Linked DNA regions of Homo sapiens. The protein of the gene in region 3 purifies or fractionates together with the protein of the main gene of each other region. This does not show direct contact. Each region holds a gene or a part of one and is shown on either strand. Other genes may lie near its edges.

The links. Proteins that work in one complex are often made in the same cells at the same time.
Region 1: the proteins of PAQR3 (region 3) and ALCAM purify together in Homo sapiens (affinity purification with mass spectrometry; one large-scale study listed by BioGRID and IntAct). This does not show direct contact.
Region 2: the proteins of PAQR3 (region 3) and UBLCP1 purify together in Homo sapiens (affinity purification with mass spectrometry; one large-scale study listed by BioGRID and IntAct). This does not show direct contact.
Region 4: the proteins of PAQR3 (region 3) and CYRIB purify together in Homo sapiens (affinity purification with mass spectrometry; one large-scale study listed by BioGRID and IntAct). This does not show direct contact.

What each region holds. Positions count from the first base shown.
Region 1 is NC_000003.12:105,369,200-105,373,933, reverse strand, and holds part of ALCAM (CD166 antigen isoform 1 precursor), read right to left. Parts: intron 1-4,734. UniProt on the Homo sapiens protein: Cell adhesion molecule that mediates both heterotypic cell-cell contacts via its interaction with CD6, as well as homotypic cell-cell contacts. Promotes T-cell activation and proliferation via its interactions with CD6.
Region 2 is NC_000005.10:159,279,581-159,283,937, reverse strand, and holds part of UBLCP1 (ubiquitin-like domain-containing CTD phosphatase 1), read right to left. Parts: intron 727-4,357; coding exon 599-726; intron 1-598. UniProt on the Homo sapiens protein: Dephosphorylates 26S nuclear proteasomes, thereby decreasing their proteolytic activity. Recruited to the 19S regulatory particle of the 26S proteasome through its interaction with 19S component PSMD2/RPN1.
Region 3 is NC_000004.12:78,914,484-78,919,602, forward strand, and holds part of PAQR3 (progestin and adipoQ receptor family member 3), read right to left. Parts: 3' UTR 3,398-5,119; coding exon of another isoform or gene 3,312-3,397; 3' UTR 1-3,311. UniProt on the Homo sapiens protein: Golgi-scaffold protein which modulates its interactors acitivies by anchoring them to the Golgi apparatus. Functions as a spatial regulator of RAF1 kinase by sequestrating it to the Golgi apparatus.
Region 4 is NC_000008.11:130,006,036-130,010,769, forward strand, and holds part of CYRIB (CYFIP-related Rac1 interactor B), read right to left. Parts: exon of another isoform or gene 4,621-4,734; intron 2,419-4,620; exon of another isoform or gene 2,299-2,418; intron 1-2,298. UniProt on the Homo sapiens protein: Negatively regulates RAC1 signaling and RAC1-driven cytoskeletal remodeling. Regulates chemotaxis, cell migration and epithelial polarization by controlling the polarity, plasticity, duration and extent of protrusions.

The DNA.
Region 1 (4,734 bases), on a different chromosome or scaffold from region 3:
TCCAGTTCAATTCTCAGTGAGGAATATTATATCCTCAACTCCCAAACTCCTTGAGAAAATTTCTTAGTAATGCATGAATGTCAGGTGCTGCCATATGGAGTTTAATTCTCCACATATGCATTGCTTCTACTGTATTTAATGCAAAGAAAAAATGTGAAGCAGCTTCTAGGTGTCAAGCTCTTAACTAGACTTGAGGATACATAGACAAAGATGATATTTGGTATTCAAAAAATTTATGTTCAACTGAAAAAAGTCACCAATATCATAATACAATGTGGTAAAAACTACAGCAAAGACAAGTACAGGGAAAAGGAAAAGGGAAAAGTTAAGACTCACTTTAGTCATTATCAACATTCCAATGTTGATTTTGCACCAAAGGCAAGTAAGTACAGGAAAGTTTTTTTTTCTTCATTCACAGTTCAAATAAGGTAATCTAGACTCTCTCTAAAACTATACAGATGGAGAGGATAAAAATCTACTTATATCAATTTCTAAGGTGAAAGTATCTTTGAGATTTATCTCCCTCAAGAAAACATTGTGTTGGAGTGCTGGTTGATATCTTAATCTACAAATTCAGTTAACTTCTCTAGTGAAATCATCATAATAAGTTAAAATAATCAAAAATAAAGTCTTTTTTAATTACAAGTTCCAATCTTCCTAACATTTATGGATTTGATATTACTGGTTTTCACTGTTTACTGTAACCCCATAATCCATTATAAGTAGTAATTTTTTTTTCTAAAAGCAGGTGTGTGAAAATCCTACTGGAGAGTCAACCTACCTGGCTGCTAACCCAACTCATAACATGAAAAGGGTATTGCTTTATTATTCATTTATTCATGGAAACTCATATGATGTAATAAAAAACTTGCTTAAGAAAAAGGGCCAGGTGAGGGTAAAATTTTTCTAAAACTTGAAATGTGATTTTGCAGAGCTAAACAAATTATTCATAGTGGAAGTGTCATTGAGCAAAGGCCAGAAGACTACAGCAATTGCCATGGTCATAGTATGTTTTCCTGTGAATGAACATCAAGGGTCTATAATATTTATAGGATTTGAGAAGATTGCAAAGGTTTAGTTTCATCTCATAGATGTTTTTAGTCTTACTTGGGCCAAGATTTTGCATCAGTTCCTTAAGTGATACAGAAAAGAGCTAAAACAATAATAACAGTAATAGAGAAGCAAATCAGAGAAGCTGGACAGCTGTCTAATTTCTGATTAACCTATTCCCCAGCAGTTTAGTTTCATTGTGTTGAAGTACTATGAATTCTTAGACCAGACAAGTATAGACATGTTCATTGAAGTACCTCAACTCAAAGTCAAATTAAGTAATCCTTTGGTTAGAAGATGTTTTGGATTGTGCGCAACTCTGATTTCCCCTTCAATGGAATGGATAATTGAGAACTGACTGGATAAATAAGAGAGGAAGCATTAAAAGCTAATTTCATTCTTGGAACATAGACTACAGTAATGGGCTATGATAATAGGTTAGCATAAAACAATTACTGAATACCATACCACATTTGGAACTAGGCCTATCTGAAATATATAAGGTATTCTATTCAATAATAAGGGAGAAAAGAGAATGTAAAATTTATTATTTAAGCAGAGAAATTAGCTGCATGAAAATATCAGTAACTCCAAAAATATGGTAATGACTTACGTACTATAGGGACACTATAATAATTGTAGGATTTAGATTTAACCTTACCAAACAGCCTGCAATATTCTCTTCCTGAATATAGAATATCTATTTTAGTCTTGAATTTACTCTCCACAAGGAAAGGAAAATTCTACCCTAATAAAAAAAGTAATCAAAAGTATAAATGGATTTTTTTCCATTTCTTATTGAAAATAAACTGAGTTGAAATCCAAAAGTAATAACCAAATAAATGTTATCACCCACCACACCCAAGAAACCATTCTTTAGTATTCCAGTAAGTTAGTTCATTCTTCATATGTCACATACATGTGTCACACACATAATGTGTAAGAAATGAGATTAGCCTCTGTGAATACTTAACAATGAAGAATAAAATTAACACATTGTGAGAAATTGCATTTAAGTTTCTATGTATACATTGAGACAGAGACATATTCTTCTATCATAGCTATACCTAAGTGGATCTTCTGCATATCTGGGCTATAAATTGCATGTGTCTACTTGAGTGAATACCTTCAGGGAGCTAGAACTCTTTGATGGTGTTTTATGCTAAATAAATGGCCAGAACAGAAAGAAGTGTGTTTGGAATTGTAAAACATGGTGATTATAAAGCATTTAAAATACTATCTGACAAACTGCTGCCATCTTACACCAAGTAATATTGACAACTTAGGTGGTACTAAGTTTTACAAAGGCCCACGGTTAGTGGCATGAAAATTTGACGGAGAAAAAGAAAAAAGAGAAAAAAAAAAAGAAACATCTTTCCATTATTTTAATAAAATGATAAAAGTGATAATTAAGTGGAATAAATTAAAGAATGTTATTCTATTAACAATATAATAAAAGCCTTAATTAATATAGCACGTTTTACTTAAAAAATTTGAAATGCTGAGCAAGGGAATTACTAATCTCAACACAATCAGAACCACACATTGCACAGAAAGAAATTCACAGATGGGAAATAAAAAAGAGCAGAAAAATAATTTTCCCAAGGTCACAACATTCTTACATGACATAGTTAGAAACTGAACACATGAATACTGACTACAATATACAATTTTTCTAATAACACAAGACTATTTAATTAATTTTCTTCTTTTTGATAAGTCAATGGTAGACATGCATTTTCATCTGAATGTCTATTAAAAAAGATAAGCTAGTTTGAATTTTTTACAAAGTCAGAAAAGGTTTGGAATCTGGTAAGACAAGATATTTTGGATTTCTACAAGTTTTAAAACAATAGAAAAATATTAGTATTTTCTATTTCCTTCTGTCTTGCATTTACAACCATGTTGCAAATCAACTTTTTGAGCAACTTTAGGATGTACAATATGAGGCTTTGTCATATGAATATTTAAGCATAAACCATAATTTACATCTCATTCTAGGTACTATGTATGCAGTTTATATAGGAACAGGTTTGCAGGAGAGATGAGTTACACTAGCAGGGCTTTCTGAGGCCTACTATCCTTTCTTACTTTTGGGTCCTCTTTTCCCAGGAGAGTGGAAGGCTAATTTCTCTCCTTCACGCTTTTTTTTTTCCCTACTAAGGCTGGAAAGAGTAAGCATAGATGTTATCATGAATTTTTAAAGGTAGAAAAAAAAAGGAAATTAGAAATTGGGGTCTACTGATACTTTTCTAATAATACAATTTATATGAATTTTGTCTAGACTGAGATCCTTAGAAAAATAGTGTTGAAAAATGACTCTGCCTGCCTAAATTGGTTTTTTACCTTAAGACTTCAGAAACAAAGAGTTTTTGAGCTGGGAGACATTTCAGAGAGTAGGCCTCTAGTCTGTCTTTTTATTTTGTATGAGAAAACTGAAGCTCAAAAAGGTTAAATGACTTGCTCAAGTGCCTGAAGGTAGATGTCCTGAAGAAAGCCTAGAAAAGCAATTTACTGCAAATAATGCTCCATTAAATTGTAAATTGCTATTGGATTAAATAAATCCTTAAGGAAAAAATATATATATATTGGCTGTTAAACAGTTTTTAGTTTTTAAATTAATCAATTTCAATAGTCCTACATCAATAGTCTTTGAAAGGACATTATTTGAGTTGATGCTTTCCCAAGTCCTGTTGAGATCAATTGATATGTTTCAAACATAATATCCCACTGAAGAAAGCTTTATGTGTGCTTATGTCTTAGAATGAATCTTATATCAGTGAGATCAGTGAGTAGTTATGAAAAATCCCATAGAGGGGTTCATACAGATGACCCAAGTGAAGAAAGAGTTAACTGCAGCGCCCCATCTCCTTGTAAATAATCCAGAAAAGCATTCTTTTTTTAAGCAATACAAAATGTCACCACAGGCTGACGCTCTTTCTACAAGAATAACGAGAATATTGCTATCTCGGATGTTGAACACACACTTCATTGCCTTCATCTCTGAATTCAGTTTTCGTGGTTCATATATTTTTCTCCTCCTTTCAAAACAGGTAACGTGGCACGCCTAAAATATATCAATGACTTTGTAGCGACTACAAGCCGAAAGACCCGGGGAAGCAGTTTCACAAACTCGAGTTTTTGACCTCTACAACTGGACATACACTATTAAAACTGCTCCGGAAATGAAGAGTGGCCGGCAGGGAAGGCAGTTACCCCGCTCAAATGAAGCCGGCCTTTGGCACCGCGCCCCCACCGGGCTCTGCTATGCAGAGGGCTCCGAAGAAGGCGCACTTACTGTCCAAGACTTGCTTCCTCAGTGTAGACACGGCGCCTTTAGTGCTGTAACCTTTCCTTTCAAAACACACTGATACTGCAATGAGAATTTCGGCAATGCCAGCTCGGTAATTCACCGAAACCACGGATCTGAGGGTCCAGGGCCGATATCGGATCCTCAGATTCACGGTGGCTGGTTGCGGTGAGCCGGGGCTAGCCGCTCGCCGAAAGCGCGCAGCTCGGTGCCCCCTGGACACACGAGCCTGTGGCGCCAAAAGAACCACCGTGAAGGAGGTCTGAAAGCGGAACTTTCCCCCTTTTAGCAGTTAAATGTGTAGAAAAACCTATCCTGCGACGTGGCCCGCCTGTGACGGCACCGAAAAGGAAACTGGTTATGTGCCTGTGTCA
Region 2 (4,357 bases), on a different chromosome or scaffold from region 3:
GTCTCAAAACCTTGATGTTTATAGGCAACGTCTATATAGATTTGTGCAAACATTTGGGTTTAGATAAAAGACTGAAAGACTATATACCAAGATGGTAACAGTGGTTATCTTTAAAAAGGAAAATTATGAGTAATTGTTTTTTTAGTAGGATAAACTTTTCTAATTTCTCTGCTACACTCAAGTTACTGGTAATTTTTAATACTATTTATGAAATTTTTACATGTGTTTTATCTTATCCTGACATTAAGTTACAGTATGAGAAGAGGGATTATATTCCATGTGATTCATAAAGGAGTAGCTTACCTAACATCACAAAATAATTTACAGGCAGCATCACCAACATATGCTAGTCTCTCAAGTTCTCTCTTCTAGAAGTATTAAAGAGTTTACAAGAGGTATGTTTATGAACAAGTTAGAGGTTAAGATGAAAGGGGAAAATACTTTTGGGGGTAGGTCACTGGATTAGAAAATGTTTTTAGAAGTCACCTATTTTAAATAAAAATTAAGACAGCTATATATATACTGGGGTCACTGATGAAAAATGATAATTTTTTCTTCATTGATGTAAAGAGAAAATAAATAAGCAATTAAAACTTACCTTTCCCAATATTTGTGATTTAGATCCAAAAAGTCATCTAATTTTGCTATCTCCTTGAGGTACTGAGTTAATTTTAAAAGTTCTTTGTCTTTATCACGATTTAGGTGCGCTTTCATAAAAGGCCTTATCTATTAGGAAACAAACATTACTCAACACATCACAATGTGATAAGGAAAACTAACAAATCTATACTATCATTTCAATTAGAGTTAATGAGGTTAAAATATCACCAAGAACATAAATACTAAAAATTACTTTTATATTAGCCTAAATAGAAAGTCATGTATAATGTTTACAAATTACAAACTCTTCTACCTATTTTACCTAACATTATCTTTTCAATCTGAACCTGACAACACCAGCTTTCTTATTGCACTTGAATCCATACACAGCTACTCTACTTTGCAAAACTACTTAGCCTTTCCCGCCTCCTATCATTCTAGTTGCTTCTAATTAATTTCATTCACATTATTTTATTCATAAAAATTTAACCCCAATACCAGCTTGATCTAACAGTACAGTGAGATAAATTTTAACGATGATTTTTATTTTATTTTTCTATTAAATTTTTATATAGCTGAGATATCATTATACATTTATATAACCTGTTTCCTCCTACATTTTATCATAAGCATTTTTCTTTATCATTAAATTCTCTGTTAAAATCATTTTTAATTATGCAAGAGTTTTCCATAAAAAGAACTGCCATATTTTCCAAATGTTTAAGGCTGATCTATTTTATGATGAAAAAGAGTTTAAAAAGCATTATTTCAAACCACACATGTCAGAATAATAGACCGAGGTAGGGGACTGCAATTAGTAAGGAATACCATATCTTGACTTGAGTGGCGGTGCTATGAATGCATATGTTTATATGCAATCTTCATCTAGATTTGTGCATAAATCTATGCTTAAAAAGACTAGAGGACTATAAATCAAGATGGTAATAGTGTTTATCTTTGGAAAGGAAAATCATGAGTAATTTTAGTGGAATAAAATTTTTTACAAGAATTATCTTTACAGTTTGTTGAACTATAAATTTATGCACTTTTCCTTATTTTATAGCTTCAGTAAAGAATTCTGCTGTTTTGTAAAAGACACCTGCTCAAATATCTTTATACAACTCAAGATAGTCTTTCAATAATTTTAAATTAATTTTAGATAATATGATATGACTAAGATTTACTTCAAAATATTAAGGAGAGGGAAGTAGCGTATAGAGCAAACAATAACCATCCATGAATTAATAAGCTAATTTAAACTGAATGATATCTACATGGGGGTTTAAGCAATTTTATATAGTTCTGTTTACATTTGAATTTTTCTGTTATCGTTAAAAAAAAATCATACATATTCCTAAAGCACACATATTCCTAAAGCACACATGTAAGGACTGATTTCATCATACTTAGCAAAGTATTAGTATATTCTTTTGATTTGGAGAAAATGCAAATTGGTCATTAGTTTTTTTTTTTTTTGGTCATTAGTTATTAATTTTACACAGTTAACACTGAAAAATGAATGATATTTAATCATTGTCACTTACTGAGAAGCAAGAACAATGAGTGAGCCCAAAGGAGTCTACTACCATACCTATTAAGTGTAGGGAAGGGTTTAAGTATTTTTTACATACTTTTCTTCTGTCATTGGAAAAACACCACCCATCTGAAATGGACAGAAGAAAATTTTCCCAGGTGTTCTACTCTCATCAGAACAGCTTGGTGCCAGTGACCTCCACACTGTTAGCTGGCTCCCATACTGCTTGAAGGGCACCAGTCAAGAGCTGTCAAAGGGAGTCTCCTCAGAAATCAGCATTTGTGGGAGATCCCACTTCCAAAAAGGTAGTGCAGCAGTGCTGTTTCCGAGCAGCAGTGAATGTGGGGGCTGAAGACGACGCTTTACAGGGCCTTGCTTAGGCCCTGGGGATGGGAGTAAACAGAGTCATGATATGAGGATGTAGTGAAATGAGTTTCTGCATAATCCTGGGTGATATGGTAATGTTTTAAAGTATTCCTTCATTCACTTCCTAAGGACTGAAAGGTAACAAATTAACTTTTAAGCAATTAATATATAATGTACCAAAGTGTCCAAATTTAAACAGCAGGAAATTACAGGGTTGGTGGGTAGTAAATAAGATTTTCAACCCAAGGCTCTGCTAAGTTATTTTTACTTTCCAAACATTTGCTCTTAAGCACTATTAAACAACAAAACTAAAATATTCTAATGATTCTGGTTCTAAAATTTTAAATAAACAAATTAAGGGTGAAAATCTATGCACCTAATTGACTTCACTTGCTCCAGTATAACCACTGTTTACTGTACATTTTTAAAAACTGATCTAAGTGATCACTAAAAGGACAGGAAACCATCATCTTGTCTCAGGTCAAGGAAGCATTTTTAGAAACTTAAGACTGTCTAGATAAGCTGAATTCTCCTATATCATAATTTCCTTGTACAGACAATAAAAATGGAGTTTTCAGCCGATAAACTGCTTTATCCATGACCAAGATTCACATTCTTTTAGTGTAATTCTAAATTCATATTCACAGTACCTTCCATGTACTTCAAACCTTATGACTGACAAGCTTATGTTTAATAGAAGTTAACTATTTTAAAAATGAGCAGTCTTATTTTTAAGATCTACATGAAATCTTTGAGATTTCTACCAAGTGCATTATGAAAGCATGATAACAAAACACAGCATTTGAGGATATTTCTCCATTTTAGAACTCTTTCTGGGCTGGGCGCAGTGGCTCATGCCTGTAATCCTGCACTTTGAGAGGCCGAGATAGGTGGATCGCTTGAGTGCAGGACCTCGAGACCAGCCTAGGCAACATGGCGAAACCTTGTCTCTACCAAAAATACAAAAATTAGCCAGGTGTGGTAACGTGCGCCTGTAGTCCCAGTTACTTGGGAGGCTGACATGTGAGGATCACTGGAGCAAGGGAAGTCGAGGCTGCAATGAGCTCTGATCATGCCACTGCACTCCAGCCTGGGTGACAGAGCAAGACCCTGTCAGAAAACCCCACCTGTTTCTATGCCGACGTGGGCAGATCTTTAATCTTAATCTTAACCTTTAATCTTTAACCTTAAAAGAGGTTTTCATGAAGTGTTATCTTGGGTAGATTAATTTTATAAAAAAGAGGTTTTCAATAAAAGACACACAAGGACAGCCTGTGGAGTGTCTAAATCTACCTCTGGAATTAGAATTTAGGGGATGGGGACATACGTATTTTTAGGAATTCCTTCAGTGGGTCTACTGAGTACAGTCTTTTAAAAACCCTACTGTAAAGTAACATAAAGAACTAGACATTTACAATAACATCTCTCCCTGCATCAAGAGATGAATGGAGCTCAAATGTTGGTTAGGAAAACAAAGTTTCTTTTAAACAAACATGAAACTAATGATTGTATTTTTTTTTTTAAAGTTAAACGTCTCCTCCAAAATTATTCCTTGACCATCATGGGATCACCTCCTTGCAAGAACAGGTAATAACCATTCGTTTCACAAACAATTAGGTTTACATCAACCACATTTCTTCTCAAGACTCAAGAATACATTTTTGTACCTTTACCTGGTGCAGTACATATTAAGAAAAGCACTTCTCTCCAAGCCTTAAACAGAAACCATTAAGGACAACATAACCACTTTTCTTCCAAGTCAACAGTTTTTATACTTATGGCAATTCACTACCTAGATTAGTATTCTTTCCCTAAAATATCCTCATTGTAAACAAAAACTCAAATCAACAGTCTGTA
Region 3 (5,119 bases):
TTGCATTTTCATTCATCATCCCCCAGAATCATGGTCAAGGTGTAGGTCACTCCACACAGCTGATGCTCAGGTTATTCCCTTGTGAGAATTATGAGAATAAAGCTCCCAAGATATGTGAAAGTGCTTAACACAGTACCTGGCACACAGCACTCAATAAAAGTTTGGCTCTATTATGGGATGGTTCAATTCTGGTTTAAGGAAGGAAGAAAGGTTATTATATATGTACCACTAAGCAAATATATATATATATATATATTTGGGGTTTTTTTTCCCTAATATTATTTGGGTGTCCCCTGTGCTTCTTTAGGATGTAGTTATAACTAAACCTGTTATACTTGAACATCACTAAGAGAAGTAAATTATTATGAAGCTAGCAAAAATCTTGAGGCCAAAGTTGTTTCTTAACAGCTTTAATAATGCTTGTTGATTTTGAATAATCCTTTAAAAAGTGGACCATTTGCTTATTTTAATATCACGTCAGTAAAATGTTAGTATTAAAAAGATCAGCTTTTTATGGCATTGAAGAATGTATCTGCTAAGACACAAAAATTGCATGGTAAGTATAATAGGTGGAGGAGGAAAGGTTGTAGGCCGGATGAAAATTTAACTGACTAGAACATTTATTCAGGAGTGTAATTATTTTCCCTTACCCCAATCCCTGTGTACGTGTTGGGTATAGTTACGACATTATCCGGATTTGCAAATAGACACAACTTTCAGTCTTACCCTGTTTATTGTTTAAGAGTGATAGACTGTTGTCCTCTTGCTGGTGGAAAATCTAAGGTGGAGCCCACTCTTCTATGCTGAAGTTCACCAGGCAGAGCAGTTTTCTTACAAGTCAGCTACTCTGCTTGGTTTATTTTAGGTTTTGGTACTTCACGTAAGCACTGTTAGAAGGTACAAGTGTATTAATATCACTAGTTTTGAGGCGCTTGGGTACATTTGTTTTTAATATATTTAGAATGTGCAGTAAACTTTTTTCTCATTTTTTTTTCTTTTTAGCAAACTTGTTATTTTAGGTCCAATTATTGAGTTGACAGTCTACTGTGAGAATGAGATGACATATCTACTGTGAGAATACCATAAATGATGAATAGTTTATTTGAGAACTTTTATACTCAGTGGTGTTTTATATATTAAGATAAAAATATGTACACACATGCATGTCACATCTCTCTACTGTGGAGTTAATGTGAATTTTTAAAAAATGGAATTGCAACCACAATCATATCTAAGAGAACATTCACTCCTAGTGAGGGTTTACAAAAGCTACTAAGAGAATAAGGTAGATGATAATGCAAAGGGTCATGATTTGGGGTTATTTTTGTTTTATTTTAAAATTTATACTGCTACTTTTGAAAGAATTGTTTTTATGACTATGCTCTTTTTGTGATTGAAAAGTCATCTAATAGAAGCTGTATAGAAGCTACTTTTTAATTGCTGGCAAACAGCTTTAAGTGCACTTTCTTTGATTACACTTCCATTTTTTGTTAAACTTGAATTTTCTGAAGCCTTTTATGTACCACTAAGCAAATAACTTTAACCTTTAAATAAAGCAAATTTACATCTTTATTGTATTTCTACTTGTTACAAAACATACTTGCTAAAGTAACTTCAGTCCTCAAATATAGCTGGGAAACAATTATGAGATAGACTCAGTCTCCCCCTCCCACCCCTTTTCCCCTGCCATATCTAATTAAGCACTAACTGATTTTATTACTTTATTGCCTTTACACTGCTTATTCTTTTTGACTGAATTCTGTCCCTGATTCACTGTTTTGTTTGAAATTTAAAGTTATTTTCTTACTGTATTTATCATACCTGTTTTAATCTGTTTTCTTTAAATGCAATAAATCCCAAATGGATTGCATATTCTTTATAATCAGTGACTTTGGAGTTTTTCATTATTTGTCTTATTATGACTTTTGGATGTAAACTTCTATTCAAATTCAGTTATTTCATTCACACCACAAACATTAAGCACCTATTATGTAGCAGCTAGTGGAATAGAAAAGTTGCTAAGATTAGATCCCTATTCTTAAGGAGCTCAGAGTTTACAATTTAGGTAAGAAAACCCATTTGACTTAAGAGTTTTTGCCACAAGAACACTTAATAGCACGACTTTTTCAGTGAGTCATAATTACTGATACTCGAGTGATGACAGTAAGGCAAAAACAATATTGTGTAGTGCCTTCTGAATAACTTATTTTACAGCTTCCACATTATAAATTTTTAAAAATCTTTAAAACTGATAACATCTTTGGCTGAATTAATACTGGTTATTTGCTTAAATAACATTGTAATCCTCAATTATATCAGAAAAGAGGCTATGACACATTAAAGAGAAAACCTATTTATTGGATTGATGGACTAAGCTTGGCATCAAGGTTATAATATGTATTATTCCAAAAACTGGAGTCTTTGGTAGCCTGTGGAAAGGTTCATCCTATTTTTATGAATTAACTTTTTCTGAAGTTGTAACATTTATCTAAAGTTATGTGAAAAAAAGGGGCTTTGTATCTTTTTAATGAAAATGAATGGTACAAAGCAAAATAACACAAATGATTAGAAAAGTTCTATTAACAAAGAATAGTTTGCAGTGTATTACTGTTCAAATTCAGTTATAGTTACTTGAGATGAATATATGCTGCAATTTGAGCTATTTATTTTGGATAACGAATACCTTTTTAAGGAAGCCCAGGTCAAGCATCATATGTAACATGTAGTTAATATTCTCATATTGAAAGCTTGAGCTTGTATTTGTTGTTACATATTAAATGAGATAGTTCAGATGGTTGTCACAATTGAGATTATGTGCAGGTTAGGTAGTATTTTGATCTCAGATTTTATAGAGCAGGACTAGAACCTTGGTGGCTGTTCATTTCAGCCCTCTTAAGGATGGAGGTTAATTTTTCACAAGAAACCCCCTACTGCTATTTACCTCTCCCTTCCAAAAATGTTTTCTTAAGGGTAGTTTCAGTTCTGGATCATTATCTCATTACACTACTTGGGAATTCTGGTACAAAATTTCAGAGGACTGTATTTACACCTCTTTAGTGTAAACACAGTTATTGTGATAATGCACACAGAAGGTATTTCTACCCCTTCTCTAATAGGTGAGCTGATTCTTTACACACTTGGGCAGAAGTAGAATTCCCAGGAATGATGATTTACAGTGGACAGGGACCTAATGCAGCAAAGCAACCAGCAGGAATTCACAGGAATAGGCTTTGCCCCTTGACATTTAATACAGGGCAAAGTATTATCTAGTAGGTACCTGCCAAATGGAGAGTTGTACAGTTTTACGGAAGTCAATCACAATCTTCAAATCGGATATTCTGTCCAGGTGGGATGCCATAAGATGTGACAGACATTCCCTGAATCTTCGTTCCTGATTCTAAAATATGATTTTAAAGCTGTTATGTATTACAAAGAATGACAAGCAGCAGTTAAAAATATTTAGTAAACCCAGTTTATTTACATAATACATATTTTGTCATGCAGCTTACTGAATTGCAGTTAGTGTAATAACAAAAAAAGACAAGCACTGTCTTGCTATTTGAAAATGGCTTAATATAGAAAGATAATTGTTTCTTAAATGAGTTAACCACAACCATATAAATTGCTAGACAATTTAAAACAGCCATAGATAATTTTAAAATGTAAAATCTGTAGGCAAAAAGCTTTTATAGTTCACACATTGGTAAAATTAAAACCAGTCTTTTTTAGTAATAAAACTGGATAGTATATTTTAATCTTACTTTAATCTATAAAAACAAAAATAACTTAAATATACATCATTACAAGGCTCAGATTTGTAGACAACTTTAAAATATTTTTTAATGTTAACAATGTCTTCAAAATTTTACCAGTAGTGCTGTGCACACAGTAGGTGGTCATTAAATGCTGACTGACATACAGAAGTGTTTCTAGTTAACAGCAATCCATATTCATTCATTCATTCCCTATTTTATAATAAATATATCATAGCAGTGAAAAAATGAGAGGATAACTTTCTTACAATATTTAACATTTTCATACAGAGTTGAAATGTTTACATGGAATAATTTTCCCTACAGAAAGACCTGTACACCCTTTAAATTCAAAGAAACACGGATTTAAAAACACAGTATACTCTTTTCATGTTATTAATTCAAATGGCAAGTATGTATTCATATACTAATACAGGGACTGCAAAAATTGAAATGATTCAATGTTTTTTTATTTTGAGAAAGTTTTATAATAAAAATGGCTCCACACCTAAAATAATGATTTTCCCCTCATTTTTAACTTAAGTGTAACTACTCAGTGTCTTTTGTTTGGCCAAAATGACAAAATATCTATTAAAAGGCAATAAAATCATGTAAGCCAATAAGGGATGTTCTAGGAGAAATATATCCTACTACTGTTGCACCAAAATCTTCTATCACTTAACATATGGATCAAAATTTTAACCTTATAAGGTAAAACAGCCATTTTCAAAGCAGCCTTCCATCATAACGATGGGTAAGACACGGTATTCCTTTACTGAGCCTCCTGGGGGGAAATTCTCTTTGCTGAGATACTATACTAGCATGGGGAATTTATATTCCAAAAACACTACACTGGAAAAGAAACACAACATTTTACTGATGTATTAACTGAGGCACATTAGTGACTTTCCAAGTATCATATGCACAAAAGGCATTTTGGGAATAAGCTTCATCATCAATTAACATTTTTTCTGATATTCAGTAATTTTACTGTTCTGAAAATACACCAGTATTTAAAACAGCTCATGTCAACTCATGAAGAAACTTGGGTAATATTTTATACTCCAATAAACAATGTAAGTTTTTATGAATGTCTACTTTAAGGGATTTAACTAATGCATATGAAAGACCAAAGAATAAGAGGGCTACAATGTATGATAGGGCAGTGAGTTCTATTTTTTAAGTATATACAATAAAAAGAAAGTTTAATGCTTCAGGCCCAAATATTAAGTGTTTATCAAGATTCTGAGTTATCAATGCAATGCTAACACATGCAGAAACCGAGGACCAGAGCACAGGTGAATAAGATTATTATCAAATGGGGCATCTGCATGACTTTGTTCTAAGGCTTAAGGTTCATTTCAGGG
Region 4 (4,734 bases), on a different chromosome or scaffold from region 3:
CTCATGCCTGTAATCCCAGCACTTTGGGAGGCCAAGGCAGGCAGATCACTTGAGGTCAGGAGCTTGAGACTCACCTGGCCAACATGGTAAAATACTGTCTCTATTAAAAATACAAAAATTAGCCGGGCATGGTGGTCCACACCTGTGATTCCAGCTACTCAGGAGGCTGAGGTATGAGAATCGCTTGAACCCAGGAAGCGGAGGTTGCAGTGAGCCGAGATCACGCCGCTGTACTCCAGCTTGGGTGACAAAGTGACACTCTGTCTCAAAAGAAAAAAAGAAGAAAAAGAATCTGGCTTGCCGGGTACAGTGGTGTGCACCTATAGTCCCATCTACTTGGGGGGCTGAAGTGGGAGGATCACTTGAACCCAGGAGAGTGAGTCCAGCTTGAGCAACGTAGCAAGACTCTCATCTCAAAAAATAAAATAAAATAAAATAAAATAAAATATATATATATTTATTTATTTGGGAGGCCGAGGCAGGTGGATCACCTGAGGTCAGGAGTTCGAGATCAGCCTGGCCAACATGGTAAAACCCCGTCTCTACTAAAAACACAAATTATATATATATACATATATATGTGTATATATATACATATATATGTGTATATATATACATATATATATGTATATATATATGTATATATATACACACATATATCTGGAACCTCCCACCCAGGAAGTGTAAGCACACCCAAGGTATGAGCAGATTAAAGAAATCCTGCAGAAGGGGGAACACATGCATAGAGTATGCTGGCAAGGTCACATATAGAAAATGGGTGGGGGGACTTGAAAGCAGAGGTATAAATCCTATGTGCACCTTATTTGCTCAAGTCTACATGGACCAGCATCCAAACATTGAAATTTTCCTTTCAAATTCAATCCCCCAGAGTGTATGGTCTCAGGACCCTTCTTTCCCCCAAATCTTTTCTAGTGGGGATGCATGTATGCAGACAATGCAAAGTGCTACAAATCGCAACACCAAATGCATCAAGAGGTAGATTATTAGTATGAGTCAGTTTCACACTAACTTTACCAAAAACCTCACTGCTCACATTAGCTCAAGTAATCTACTTACAACCACAATTATAAATTCTGAGCTTCCTTGGCTGACGAGTTTGCAGTAGGTGGTTCTTGGCCCTGAGGGCTGCTGAGATGCCCGCCGTTATGAGATGCCCACTGAGAAAACCACCGCCCTCTCCCAGCAGGGTCCAGCAGGAGCAGTGTCTGCTCTCGGCTACACAACTCCATTCATAGACTTTTCCAGTTACGTTTGAGGTTCACCCAAAGGAGGTAGTAAAAACAGGAGGTGGGCACTGAAGCTGGCCTGGTATGTTTGAATTCCAGCTCTGCTTTTTATCAGCCTCCAGGTTTTCTCAGTTTCCTCATCTGTAAAACGGGAATAATATTACCTGCCTCACAGAGTTACCATGAAAGTAAGAAATAAAATATTCAAAGTATATGACATGGCTGGGCGCAGTGGCTCACGCCTGTAATCCCAGCACTTTGGGAGGCCGAGGCAGGTGGATCGCCTGAGGTCAGGAGTTCGAGACCAGCCTGCCCAACATGGTGAAACCCTGTCGCTACTAAAAATACAACATTAGCTGGGCGTGGTGGCACAGGCCTATAATCCCAGCTACTTTGGAGGCTAAGGCAGGAGAATTGCTTGAACCTGGGAGACGGAGGTTGCGCTGAGCCGAGATTGCACCATTGCACTCCAGCCTGGGCAACAAGAGCGAAACTCCATCTCCAAAAACAGCAACAACAACAAAGTACAGGACACTTGCTCCATGCTCCATAAAAGAAAGTTAATATTGCCATAAAGGAGACCAAAAAAATCACAGAAACCCACGACGTGATCCTGATGGGAGCCCTGTTAAGAGGGGCTTCCAGGCCAGGCATGGTGGCTCACGCCTGTAATCCCAGCACTTTAGGAGGCCGAGGCGGCCAGATCATCTGAGGTCAGGTGTTCAAGACTGGCCTGTCCAACATGGTGAAACTCCATCTCTACTAAAAGTACAAAAATTAGCCAGGTATGGTTGCGGGCGCCTGTAGTCCCAGCTACTCGGGAGGCTGAGGCAGGAGAATTGCTTGAACCCGGGAGGTGGAGGTTGCAGTGAGCCGAGATCGTGCCACTGCACTCCAGCCTGGGTGACAGAGCGAGACTCTGTCTCTAAATAAATAAATAAATAGAGGGGCTTTCTGCCAGGTCCATAGCTGCCTGCACACATAGTCCAGAAATGTGACCTCACTCCCTAGCTCCTGCTCCACTCGCCACCATCAACCTGCTGGCCTGTCATTCATGGTGTCTGGTGACTCTCCCTGCCATCCCATTCCAAACCCCTCAGAAAAGCTTATCCAATTCCTGAGTGAAAAGAATGGGCCTAGAAGGGCTGAGTTTAAGTTAACCCAAAGAAATAAACCCAAACTCCTTCATTCTCCAAGCTGTTCAGGCCTCAGGGACATGTGTGGGGTGACTGTGGGGCACACACTATCATTCCCCATGTGGATCCATCACGGGGCCTAGCACACAGGAGGTGCACACTCAGTGACTGTTCTGTTGTTGAATGGCAGGATGAATCTCACTCCTCCCTCAAGACCTGAAAACTTGAGAGTTATGAAGGCATGTTTAGGAATGACTGTAAAATACCACTTTTCAGAAAACACAGAAATCTCCATTTGATTCTTTCATTTGCAAGCCTGTTTGATCTGTCTACACACTGGTTGGTCTCTCGTGTCCCAGAAGCAGAGGGCAAGACACAAAACCAGAGTTCAGGGGAGCAAAGCAGACATTTTAGGAAGTTATTGCCCAAGTTTCACTTCCACGTCGTCTTCTGCATTCTACTTCAACTCTGGTTTTGAGCAAAGCTGGGGCTGGTGAAGAAACTTCCCTTAGTCTACATGTTCCTCTCCCTGAGTCCCAGCACTGAGGCTCTGTAGACCAGGGACTCAAATTACTGAGCACTCACTGATGCTAGACCCTATGTCAGGCATATTCAGACATCTTCTGACCTAAGAGCCACAACAAGCTGGAAAACAGACACTGAGATGCCAAGAGAGGTTATGCAATGTGCAAAAGACTTCACAGTCAGGGAGTCGGGTCTGAATCAAAGATCTCCTTGGCTCCAAGGTCCTTGCTTCTCAACCTGCCACTGTCCTTTTTCAAAGGCGCCAACCACTAACATGGCAAAGTGTTTCATTTTTCATAAAGCCATCTGAGGAGTTCAAAAGCATCTTTTTTTTTTTTTTTGAGACAGAGTTTCCCTCTTGTCACCCAGGCTGGAGTGCAATGGCACAATTTTGGCTCATTGCAACCTCTGCCTCCCAGGTTCAAGCAATTCTCCTGCCTCAGCCTCCCGAGTAGCTGGGATTACAGGTGCCAGCCAACACGCCCAGCTAATTTTTGTATTTTTAGTAGAAACAGGGTTTCACCATGTTGGCCAGGCTGGTCTTGAACTCCTGACCTCAGGTGATCCACCCGCCTCGGCCTTCCAAAGTGCTGGGATTACAGGTGTGAGCCACTGCGCCCGGCCCAAAAGCATCATGAAAAACTGTCCCCCTGCATTAAATTCAGATCCCATCTCTGCCAGAAGGATAGCCCTGGACAAATCATACAGCTCTCACCCACCTGTGACTATGCCCCATGGGAGAAGGACGTGTATATGGAGGCTTTCTGCTAGACTATGCTAGATGCTTTGATACACATTATCCCACTCAATCCTCCAAACATTCCAGGGAAGCAGGTGATAGTAGCCCAGCTTCATCAATGACAATTCTGGTTCTGCAGTGGGATGTGATTTGCCCAAGGTCATGCAGCGCTGAGAAGCAGGCCCAGGGCTCCATCAGCCCTGCCATGCAATAGGCTTTGTTGAGTGAGCACTGGATGTAAATTCCAAAGAGCTTAAAGCGGCCAGACAGAGCCAGTGACAGGAGACTCTATTAGGCAGATGAGGAAAGAATGGAGCTTTTCTTCCTCCTACCGCCCAAGCCTTTCCCATCCTTAACTCCTCTGCACAACGGGGCCCTCACTGTCCTTCCCCCACCTTCTTATCAAAGGATGCTGGTGCTGGGAGGGGGAAAAGACAGAAAGAGGATTAGTCTCTGGCATGGTTTATGTTGATTTCAAAGCTGTCACTTTTCCCACATTGGGCCTTCTTTTTCACTGTGGATTTAAGTGCCTAGTCCCCTGATGAACGAAGGTCAAGGGCAGAGGTACATTTTGAACTAGAGAAAGTCCTCAGCATCCTCCTGCTCTCACAGCCTTACTGCTAAACACAGCAGTGGATGCAGAGGGTGGCACTGTGGAGCGGTGAGCAAAAACCAGGCTCAGGAGCCAGAGGCCTAGGTTCCAGTCCTGACTGTGCCTCTTGGTCAAGATGCTTCCCCCCAGGAGGTCCCAGTTCCCTTGTGTGTTAAAATTAGAGTACTGGATGCTTAGGCCTGAAACTCTGAGTATGGGGTTTCTGCTCAGTCCTTCAGCTCACACTGCCTCTCCTCCCCCGCTCCCTGAAGGCAGCCCCATCTCAATGGCTCACAGCATCTAGGCCCTCCTGGGCTTATTCAGCACCTGCTGGCAGACAGAGGTGGTCTCTCTCCCACCCCTTCCTGCTCCCACTGTCACCTGTCCTGAGGTCCATCCTAGGCCTTTGTCACTTTGTCATATGTGTGTTTTCGCATGCATGCCTCCTCCTCTAAGCTAACTTGGAAACCTCCAGGGTCATGTAGAGATTTGCAC